Linked DNA regions of Homo sapiens. The protein of the gene in region 1 interacts with the protein of each later gene in a pairwise test. Each region holds a gene or a part of one and is shown in the gene's direction. Other genes may lie near its edges. The genes, in order: AGTRAP, PBX3 and SYT16.

Evidence for each region.
Region 2: the proteins of AGTRAP (region 1) and PBX3 interact in a two-hybrid assay, tested with the Homo sapiens proteins (4 studies listed by BioGRID).
Region 3: the proteins of AGTRAP (region 1) and SYT16 interact in binary tests that used the Homo sapiens proteins (3 or more experiments, as listed by UniProt).

Annotation. Positions count from the first base shown.
Region 1 is NC_000001.11:11,745,988-11,749,735, forward strand, and holds part of AGTRAP (type-1 angiotensin II receptor-associated protein), read left to right. Parts: intron 1-139; coding exon of another isoform or gene 140-236; intron 237-1,452; coding exon 1,453-1,558; intron 1,559-2,427; coding exon 2,428-2,623; intron 2,624-3,748. UniProt on the Homo sapiens protein: Appears to be a negative regulator of type-1 angiotensin II receptor-mediated signaling by regulating receptor internalization as well as mechanism of receptor desensitization such as phosphorylation.
Region 2 is NC_000009.12:125,925,305-125,929,052, forward strand, and holds part of PBX3 (pre-B-cell leukemia transcription factor 3), read left to right. Parts: intron 1-3,748. UniProt on the Homo sapiens protein: Transcriptional activator that binds the sequence 5'-ATCAATCAA-3'.
Region 3 is NC_000014.9:61,810,512-61,814,259, forward strand, and holds the start of SYT16 (synaptotagmin-16), read left to right. Parts: upstream 1-2,191; 5' UTR 2,192-2,286; coding exon of another isoform or gene 2,287-2,299; intron 2,300-3,748. UniProt on the Homo sapiens protein: May be involved in the trafficking and exocytosis of secretory vesicles in non-neuronal tissues. Is Ca(2+)-independent.

The DNA of each region.
Region 1 (3,748 bases):
GCATAAGGATTGCACACCCTGCAGGAGCTGGGAGGGAGACGTGGAAGTGCTCATCAGAGCTCCCCAGGGCCTGCCCCACAGTGAGGCCTCAGCACTGCAGCTTGATTTTCACCTTTACCATCTCTTTTAATCTGTTGAGCTTCTGGAGACATTTCTCTGCCAAACCAAGACTGGAAACCATTGAGCTCACCTGTGCACTTTGCAAACTTCGAAGTGCAGCGCACAGGGCAACAGCTGTGAGTAATGTGAACTGTAACCATCATGATTCACGACCTTGAGAAGCAGGGCCAAAATACAGATTTCTTAGTCACACTTCCCCAAGATTCTGAGTTGGTGATTCTGGGCTGGGACCCAGGCACCTGCTTTCTTAAAAGCAAAAGATAAGATGGTTTATTCAAAGACCTATTGAACCGAATGGCACTCCACACCTGCCTTGCACATGTCTTCTGCATGTTACACTTTAGTGAATGTCCTATAAATCTAGGAAGCGCCCGCTGCATGCAGGGGAAGGCAAGGCCCAGTGGGTTTGGTAATAAATGAGGTAGACTCAGTCCCTGTCCCCCTGAGTCTTCCTTGCAGCACAGCAGGGTGAGCAAGAGCATGGCCTCTCCAGCCAGACTCCAAATCCCAGCCCCACTGCTCAGCAACTGTGTGACCTTGGGCGAGTTACTTAACCTCATTGTGTCTCAGTTTCCTCATCTCTAAAGTGAGGGTAACAATAATACTTCCTTCCTATGGTTATTAACATAAATGTACATGAATGAGTTAATTTAAAACAGAACCATGCTAGGTACTAGCAAGTGATCGGTGTTCACTATGATTTTGATTGGATTGACAAGTAAGTCAACAATGTCAGTATCAGTACCCTAAAAATAGAATAGGGCGGGCCTTGTGTTAGGAAAGTGACGAACTTGTACTTAGCACCGGTGGGCAAGGGAAGGAGTCTCAGGGTGAACATTCGAGTCTCAGGGTGAATGACAAAAGGAGGGCCAGGTGTCAGGGTAGAGGGCGCCCGCCGCACAGGGCAGTGGCTGGGAGGTCAGTAGGGCGAGGCTGTGTCCGGGATCCCACAGGCCCCTTAGGCCCTGGTGAAGAGTCTGCATTTTATTCCAAATGGGACAGAAAACTGTTGGAGGATTTTTAGCAGAGGAGTGACAGCATCTGACTACGTTACCGGTTGCTGTTTAGAGAACAGAGTGGCAGTCAGGACGCTGGCACAGGGTGGCTGCGGCTGTCATCTGCCAGGAGAGGGAGGTGCTTTGGATCTACAGGGACACAGCCAGATCCAGGGTCTGGGTGGGAGGCGGAGCCCATGGGATTTGCTGGCACACAGCCGGGTGGCCTCGAAGACTATGGCATGTTCTGGGAGGAGGCCCTGAGACGCCGGAGCAGGAGGGAGGTGACCTGCGGGGTGGTGGCCTCCTGACGGGACTGAGCTACCTCTTCCTACAGGGGCTGCATTGTATTCTCAGGCTCCTATGCCTGGGCCAACTTCACCATCCTGGCCTTGGGCGTGTGGGCTGTGGCTCAGCGGGACTCCATCGACGCCATAAGCATGGTGAGCCAGGGTGGGGGAGAGGCGGCAAGGCGGGGAGCCGCAGCACAGGGCAAGACATAGCCTGGCTCTGCTACCCCGTCCCATCCCAATCTTCCCCCTCTTCCTTGGGCCACCACTTCCCATTGTCTAAAGCCTGTTCATCAGCCTCCTGGGCTCCGGCCCATGCCTGTGTTCAGGAGCCCAGCCTGCTGCTCTTCTTGTCTGGCTTAGAGAACCCCAAGTCTGCCATTATCTCCCTGAGGAAAGCCATGGGGTGGGTCCCACCAGTGCCTCGGATTAGCCACTTCGCAAGAGCAGTGGAACATCCCCTGTAACCTCCCTCTGCGGCTCTCTTTTAGGGGAGGGGATATGGCTGGGAGACCCGGCCAAGAGGGCATTTCACTACTTTAGGAAGTAGAGGTGACCCTGCCCCACCGAAACCTCCCACAGGGGGAGCTTCTCAGCACCCACGGAGCCCCGTGGGGCAGTGAGCACTCCCGCACGGGCTCTTCAAGCCGAGGCCAGGGCCTCAGGATGACTGAGAAGAGATTTTCTTTGTGTTGGAGAAGGACTGGGTGAACTCCAAGGAACCTTCCTCTATGGAGGTTCTAGAGCCAAGTCTTGTGCCCATCATGGCCTTGGAGATGACGGGAAATGGGTGGGGAGGGAGGCTCTGGTGGAACCGAGACCTGGGCCCCCGGCATCCCTGCCCCCAGACTGCAGTCTCAGCCAGCGGCTCCCCAGCGGGGCCCTGCCTGCTTGCTTGATCCATTTTCCCGCAAGCCCCAAGGACACAGCAGGGCATGAAACGGCTTCCCATCCGGTGTGTGGCGGGGGAGCCACGGAGCGTGGTGGGGGTGTTGTGCTCATCAGTGTGGTGTGTCTTGCAGTTTCTGGGTGGCTTGCTGGCCACCATCTTCCTGGACATCGTGCACATCAGCATCTTCTACCCGCGGGTCAGCCTCACGGACACGGGCCGCTTTGGCGTGGGCATGGCCATCCTCAGCTTGCTGCTCAAGCCGCTCTCCTGCTGCTTCGTCTACCACATGTACCGGGAGCGCGGGGGTGAGCTCCTGGTCCACACTGGTGAGGCCACCACCTCCAGCCAGCTCCTCACCGCTCCCTTCTCTCCCTTGCCTGGCCTCCAGCCTCTCCCTCAGTGAGCCAGCCTTGCCCCATGGGGCCAGGGCTCAAGGTGCAGGGAGAGCGTGGCATGGGCGCTCTGTACTAGGCTGGACAGGTCCAAGCTCCTAGTCTCTGCTGCAGGAGCCCAGGGGTCCCCTGGTTGTCCTGGTCTGCCGTGACCTTCTTCTGCTGTGAAGCTGAGGCTGGGCCCTTCTCTCAGCCCAGAACACAGGCACAGCTGGGGGTACCATTTAGTTCCCAGGGGCAGCCCTGGGCTGTCTCCATCCTGAGGGCCACGGGCACCTACAGGTCTCCTCTCTGTTCTCACCGGGGCCCATCACTGGAACCCCATTTCCTGCCACATGGGGTCTTCCCTCTCCTGCTGCAGAGACTGCTAGGTGGCCAGGGCAGAGCCCGTGCCAGTGTAGGCTGTGGGAGCCTCAGTGAAGACAGCCCTGAACAGGGGGCACTTTCCCTGCCCACCGGCCCCTCCCCACTCACCCAGCCTTACACCTGCCCTCTCCCACGCCCTCTCTGAACTCCTGTACTCCTTCTCCTGGTGGCCGAGCCATTTGCCTGCTCTCTGACACCTCTCTCTCTCTTCCTTTCTCTCTCTCTTTGAGAGGAGTGGAGGGAGGTGGTAGGGTGTGGCCTTCTGCCTTTCACTCCTGAGATGAGATGCCCCACGTGGCCTGTGACTGCCACCAGCTGGTTGAGGGTGGGAATGGCCTGGGGCTGCCCACAGTGGCTGACCTCAGCACTGCCTGGGCCTGCCCCCAGGTGAGGGGTGCCAGAATGTTTCTCCCATTGGACAGATGAGGAAACTGAGGCCCACATCCTTTGGGACTTGTTCAGGGTCCCGGGATGAATGTACAGAGTAGGGGATGGGAGTGAGGCATGTGGCGTACTCGGAGCCCTACGGCCCTGCCTTGGACCCAGCCCCAGCCTCCGAGGCCATCTGGATATGGTAATGTGGTGTCCTTGTACCTGGGAGGGGAGCTGGAGAGGAGTGCGTGGGCCCGGGGCTGATGTCCCTCTGCCCAGGTTCCTAAGCACGTGCTGCCTGGGGAAGCCCATGGCACAGGG
Region 2 (3,748 bases), on another chromosome or scaffold:
CACTAGCCACTTGTATCTAATGAGCACTTGAAGTCTGACTAGTCTGAACTGAGATGTGCTGTCAATGTAAAATACACACTAGATTTCAAAGAGTACAAAAAAGGAATGAAATACCTCATTAACAGTTTTTTTGTCTTTCTTTGTTTCTTTCTTTCTTAATTTTCTTTCTTTTCTTTCTCTCACTCTGTCACCCAGGCTGGATGCAGTGGCACAATCTCAGCTCACTGCAGCCTCTGCCTCCTGGGCTCAAGTGATCCTCCTACCTCAGCCTCCCAAGTAGCTGGGACCACAGGCGTGCCACCATGTCCAGCTAATTTTTTATATTTTTGGTAGAGACGGAGTTTCACCATGTTGCCCAGGCCAGGATATTTTTTATATATTGGGTTAAGTGAAATATATTGTTGATTAATTTCACCTAATTCTTTGTATTTTATTTTTTAATATGGCTACTGAGAATTTAAAAATTTAATATGTGGCTCACAATGTATTTCTATTGGACAGGATTACTCTAGAGAGAAATTTTGTGGCCAAATTTATTTGGGAAAAAGTTGGATATGCTATTTCTCCTTGAAGATTTATTACAAATATTAGGATAGGAATACTGAAGAGTCTTACCCACAAAAAGTTTTTAAGATTTTGGTTAACCCAGCAATTCCCAAACATATCATATTGTTGGACTATTAGTTAACATTCTATGGAACTAGCTGTAGAACTATAGAATTTGTTAATCCCAGTTTTGGAATAGTTCTACTTCAATTATCTTTGTTTTACTGATGAGAAAACTGAAGGGTAGAGTTGGTCACATTACATAACTTGGAAATTATATAAACATCTCCTTAGGGAAAGTTCAAGAAAAAGATATATACGTATATTTATTGGTAGGGTGACCACTTGTTTTTAATTTGGCATAAAATCATTTAAATTGATAATATAGGCCAGGTATGGTGGCTCACGCCTGTAATCCCAGCACTTTGGGAGGCCAAGGTGGGCGGATCACTTGAGGTCAGGAGTTCGAGACCAGCCTGGCCAACATGGTAAAACCTTGTCTCTACTAAAAATACAAAAATTAGCTGGGCGCAGTGGCATATGCCTGTAATCCCAGCTACTTGGAAGGCTGAGGCACGGGAATCACTCAAACTCAGAAGGCGGAGGTTGCAGTGAACCAAGATCATGCCACTGCACTCCAGACTGGGCAGCAGAATGAAACTGTCTCAAAATAATAGGCCAGGTGCTATTTATTACAGGCTCATGCCTATAATCCCAGCACTTTGGGAGGCTGAGGCAGGTAGATCACTTGAGGTCAGGAGTTCGAGACCAGCCTGACCAACATGGTGAAACCCCATCTCTACTAAAAATACAAAAAAAATTACCCGGGCATGGTGGCACACGCCTGTAATCCCAGCTACTTGGGAGGCTGAGGCAGGAGAATCGCTTGAACTTGGGAGGCGGAGATTGCAGTGAGCCAAGATCGTGCCATTGCACCACAGCCTGGGTAACAAGAGCTAAACTCCGTCTCAAAAAAAATAGTAATAAGATAAAATAAATTGATAATATAGTGGGGAAGATCTTAAATTTATTTTTTTAAATCTTGGTTTCTGCCTTCAACTTCTGGTTTTAGTCTACAACATTGCTTAATGTTTTACTGTGTCATATCCTGGGACAATGATTATTAACCTTTTAAAATTATAGACTGAGATTCTGAAAAGAAAACAAAAGCTTCACAGATTCTCTCATCAGAATTATTAATATGCACACAACTTGTGTAGGATTTCAGGAGGTCATTGACCTTCTAAACCTATCCATTGACTGCAGATTAAGAATTCTTCTCTTATGATTCAGGGATAATGAATTTATGGCTATTAACCAACATAACTCTCACTCTTGAATTGTAGTATTAAAAAGCCCACCAATCTGTAGATGTTTATTAGGTATGTATATTGCATAATTCTACACTGAAGAATCCCGTAAGTATAATATAGTGTCACCACTCACAAGGAATTTAATATTTCCTATGGCTTAAAACATATTTTTGAAAAAACTTTACATGATAAGACTCATTTTACCTTACCTTAGAAATATTTATGGAAAGCTCTATAAAATTTTAGAGTAAGTGAAATACACAGGGTTCAGGAAAGGTTAGTCCTCTAATGAGCAGTTAGAAAAACCATCATGTGCTATATGTGAGCAATGTTTGGGATATCTCTAGGGAAGTGGACATTATTATAACTTCCAAACATGTCTTGCATTGATCAGTGATTTTTCTGTCTTCTCACTCCATCAGGGACACCCGTGCAGTAAGATGCAGAATTTCCCATCCTGCATTTTTAAGAAAAATGCCAGAAGAGACTCTTTTTCTTCAGGAGTATAAACTGATGCTTTATTTACCAGGCAGTACTGGATTTCAGTGTAGGCCCAGTTATACAGATTTATAAATCAAAGAGAATATAGATGAAGTTGGATGCAGTGGCACACACCTGTAATCCTAGCAGCTCAGGAGGCTGAGGTGGGAGGATCTCTTTAGGCCAAGAGTTTGAGACAAGTCTGGGCAACATAGCAAGACCCTGACTCTAAAAAAGATTTAAAAATTAGCTGGGGGCCAGGCGCAGTGGCTCATGCCTGTAATCCTAGCACTTCGGGAGGCTGAGGCAGGTGGATTGTCTGAACTCAGGAGTTTGAGATCAGCCTGGGCAACATGGTGAAACCCCATCTCTACTAAAATACAAAAGAAATTAGCCGGGCGTGGCGGTGTGTACCTGTAGTCCCAGCTACTCGGGAGGCTGAGGCAGGAGAATTGCTTAAACTCAGGAGGCGGAGGCTGCAGTGAGCCGAGATCACACCACTGCACTCCAACACTCCATCCTGGGCGACAGAGCAAGACTCTGTCTCTACAAAAAAAAATAATAATAATAAAAAATACATAAAAAATTAGCTGGGTATGGTGGCACATGCCTGTCGTCACAGCTACTTGGGAAGCTGAGATGGGAGGATTGCTTGAGCCCAGGGGCTTGAGGCTGCAATGAACTATGATCATACCACTGCACTCTAGCCTGGGTGACACAGTGAGACTCTGAATATTAGGGGAAACAAATGTGTGTGTGTGTGTGTGTGTGTGTGTGTGTTTTTGTGTATGTACTGAAAGAGACAATGTCTGAGGATTTTTTTTTTTTTTTTGAGACAGAATCTTGGAATCTCGCTTTGTTGCCCAGGCTGGAGTGCAGTGGCGCGATCTCGGCTCACTGCAAGCTCCATCGCCTGGGTTCACGCCATTCTCCTGCCTCAGCCTCCCGAGTAGCTGGGACTACAGGCACCCGCCACCACGGTGGGCTAATTTTTTGTATTTTTAGTAGAGATGGGGTTTCACTGTGTTAGCCAGGATGGTCTCGATCTCCTGCCCTCGTGATCCACCCGCCTCAGCCTCCCAATGTGCTGGGATTACAGGCGTGAGCCACCGCGCCCGGCCTGAGGATTGTTAACTAAAAAGTTTGAGACCCAGATCTGATCCTTATTTTCTGTTGGACATCCCTTGAAGAGTTGAGCTGCTTTACAGAGATGGCTTATATCCACTAAAGGCCTGCACTACAGCTAAATTATAATAGGTCATTGGAATGCTTGGCACGCAAGGCCCTTTATGTGCTAATTCAAACCTGAATCCTTTTGCTTCTTTACATATTATCTGTATTCCTATTTGCCATTCTCTGAACTTGCAACATACTGTTATTTCTAGTACCTGGAATTCCTCCTGACTTCC
Region 3 (3,748 bases), on another chromosome or scaffold:
GGAGCCTCACACATGTTCCACTGACCCTTCAATTGAATCCAAGCCCAACCCACCCTTTTTGCCCTCACACCAGCTTAACCTCCTGGTTTGTGAGCTCCAAACAGGTTGAAGACTCCAGGGTCATGTTTAATTCTTTTTTCCTTTAACCTCCTGGTTTGTGAGCTCCAAACAGGTTAAAGACTCCAGGGTCATGTTTAATTCTTTTTTCCTTTTCCCCATCCAACCCACTTCCAGAGTGTTGGCTTTTGGGTCTACTGCAGATGGTTGTTGTGAAAGACAAATGAACCAGGTCTCTGTGGTTCTTAACTAGAAGTCTGCTTCAGAATCACCTGTGTTAAAACAAATAAAGGCTAAACACAATTTAAAAAAAGGACACCCCTAAGTGCTACTCTAGGTGGACTGAATCAGAATGTGGAGCCTGATCAGAATATTCTCTCCCTCATCGTGCTCTGTGAACTGACCAGAGAGGACTCCTGTGTTGTTCTCTGGCAGTTTTCTGTCTGCCTAGCCACGTGGGAGCTAGTGGATAGGCAGACGGGAGCCTTGCTCCTGAGTCTTCTCAGCATCCAGCCCGGGGCTGATTGGGTTGAATGTGCATCTCCAAATGCATCAAATGGATTGTATCTTTGTATTTTTATTTTATTTTATTTTTAAGACAGGGTCTCATTCTGTCACCCAGGCTGGAGTGCAGTAGTATGATCTCAGCTCACTGCGGCCTTCACCTCCCAGCCTCAAGTGATCTTCCCCCTCAGCCTACTGAGTAGCTGGGACCACAGGCATGCACCACCAGCCTGGCTAATTTTTGTTTTATTTTTTCTAGAGACAGGGTCTCACTATGTTGCCCAGGCTTGTCTCAAACTCTTGGGCTCAAGCTATCCACCTGCCTAGACCTCTCAAAGTGCTAGGATTACAGGCGTGAACCCGGCCCTTTTTTCTTCTTTTAAAAACTAGGGACAGGGTCTTGCTCTTTCACCCAGGCTGGAGTGCAGTGGTGCAATCATAGTTTACTGCAGACTTGAACTCCCGGGCTAAAGTGATTCTCCTACTTTGGCCTCCCAAAGTGTTGGGATTACAGGCTTAAGCCACCATGCCTGGGCGAAATGTATTGTATCTTTAAGAAGTATCTAGCCTGCCATGTAATTTAGGGGATGTGTTTGAGCCATTTGATCCTTCACATGATGGATCTGGTGGTGGAGACGGGGGTTTCTAATGTACAACTGTCCCCTAATATATTAGGTTGGTGCAAAAGTAATGGCAGAATAATCCAATAATCCATCAGAAATTGGTTTTTGGACTTCAAGAAGATGTATACAACATCATTCTGAACTGACAGCCTCAGTTCAGAGCCCTCCTGAACCACAATGGCCTGTGAGGCACAAGACTCCGGCTCACTCATTCGGCCTGGTCCACTTACTTACTCTAGCGTCCATCCCTAGTCAGTGGCAGGGCTGTAGTTGGCTATGATCATGTATCAGTTGCTCATCCAGTGGACGTCCAATCAGTTAGTTGGCCATTCATTCATTCATTCATGCAGGCATCCAGTTATAAAGACATCCATTCACCCACTCAACAGAAATCTGCTGAGAGCCTACTACGTGCTGGGAACTATTTTCACATCGGAGACAAAACAGAGGGTGACATGAAGAGCACGGCCCACTTGGAGCCTACGGAGATGGCGTTGAGCGGTTTCGCAGGAGAGCTCCTGCCCCGGAGGATTAATGCCCAGCACCTGGCTCATCCTCCCCACACCCCTAGCTCTTCTCCCGCTTTGCTCCTTCCAGCTGGGGCTGAGCATGGGGTCCCAACCCCGCTGGTGAGAAGCTCGAGGTAGGGATGAAGCGGAGAATGGAAAAGGTGACTCGAAAACAAGGATATAGCGGGAACGTTGTAGGAAAGGTGGCGTGGAGAGGCGACCCTAGCGTGGCCGGGAGCGTGTTTCCAAGTTGCGGCGAGCATCCTCTTTGGGGGAGGGGCGGGAAAGGAAAGGAGGGGAGGGGGACGGACGCGGCGAGGCGAGGAGGGGGAGATCCAGCCTCTAGGCGCCGCAGCTCGGCCGTTCTGCCCGGGAGGCTGGGCTCTCAGGACGCCGGCGGCGGCCGCAGGGCTGGCGGCTGCTGGGCGCGGGGCGGCGCGGGGCGGCGCGGCGCGGCGGGGGCGCGCGGCAGGAGGGGCTGTGCGCGGCGCGGCCCCCGAGCGCACCGGGCCTGCCGAGGAGCGCGCGCCCGGCCGGGCTCGGCGCCGGTTTCCCGAACCTGGGCGGCCGTCGGGCAGCCCCCTCGTCCGACCATGGCGACTGACAGTGAGTGCGCTCCGGCCGCGGAGGCCAGGGGTGGGGGGAGGCCGCGGTGCCCAGGGTGGGAAGTTCGATTTCAGACGCTGCCTTTGTGCTGGCTCGCGGCAGCAGCGGCCGGGTCCCTCTCCGCTCCTCACCCTTGGCTGCCTGGCGGGGCTTGAAAGGGCAGGTGGCCCTGGCGGCGCGCCCCGCGAGGGATGTGGCAGAAGGGCGTGCGCCTGGCGCCGAGGCGGAGGGACCCTCGATGCCGTGTGGCAGCGGGGCCTGCCATCGCAGCCCTTCGCGGGCACTGCCCCCAGGCCCAGAGCCAGCCTTCAGCGAGCCGGGCAAACGAAGGCACTGCGCGTTTTTGGCGCTGTGAGTTCAAGGTTCGCCTCGAGTTCTGGGTCGGGTTTGTGCGTCTGCCTTTTGGGGATCAGGGTGGCTTGCATGGCTCGGCTGCCCGGTGGCCCACGGGCTGTATTCGCAGCGGGCAGCACAAGGCCGGCTGGAGACCGCATCTGGTTACCATGGTCAGTGGGTGGGAGGAGTGCCTGGAGACATCAGGTTGAAACTCTGAATGGAAGCGTTGGAAGGCGCTGGGTTGGCCTGCTTTTGGCATCTTGGCACCGCTGCTCTTATGGCTCAGTGCCTTTGGAAATTGGAATCCCGTCTGTGAAAACTGGTTAAGTTAGTTGCGTTTGAAGCCAGATACGTATTAGTGAAGCTTCAAAGGGAGTTCAGAGTAAAACCAAGTCACACCTGCGTACCTAGCATCCAAAGTCCCTAGCACAGGTGTGGCGCATGTTAGGGACTTCATTAGATGAGTGAATGGGGCTGGATGTGCTGGCTCAGGCCTGTAATCCCAGCACTTTGGGAGGCCGAGGCGGGAGGATCACTTGAGCCCAGGAGTGCGAGGCTGCTGTGAGCTATGACCCTGCCATTGCACTCCAGTCTGGGCCACAGAGGAAAAAAACAAAAATCAAATGGTGTGCTGGCTACAGAGGCCCTTTGGAAGGTATTTTTTTTTTTTTTTTTTTGAGAGGTGAGGAGGAAAAGAGATGGGAAAATGAGATGTCAAAATTTCTGCAATAATTTATTATTTTTCTTGTAAACAATCATCCCAGCCAAGAACACAGCTTTAGGATAGTGTGGAGAGCTTGAGTTTTTGTAGTCAAACAGACCTGTATTTTATCTCTCTAGAATTCCCTAGCAGTGGGACCATGGCACTGTCCTCAGTTTCTCTAAATTAGGACAAGGCTGTCATTCATAGCTCTTACAAGCGATGGGCACACAGGTGGCCTTCAGTAAATGGTGGTTGTCCTCTCCCTGCTGTTTTGCCATCATCTGATATGTGTGGGGATACCAACATGCTTTCCTCCTTTTTAAAGAGAAAAATGTTGATCAGGTGTTTCCAGTAAAATCAGCTAATTTGGGCCAAATTTCCCTTTCCTCAGCTCTGTTCATTTATACAAA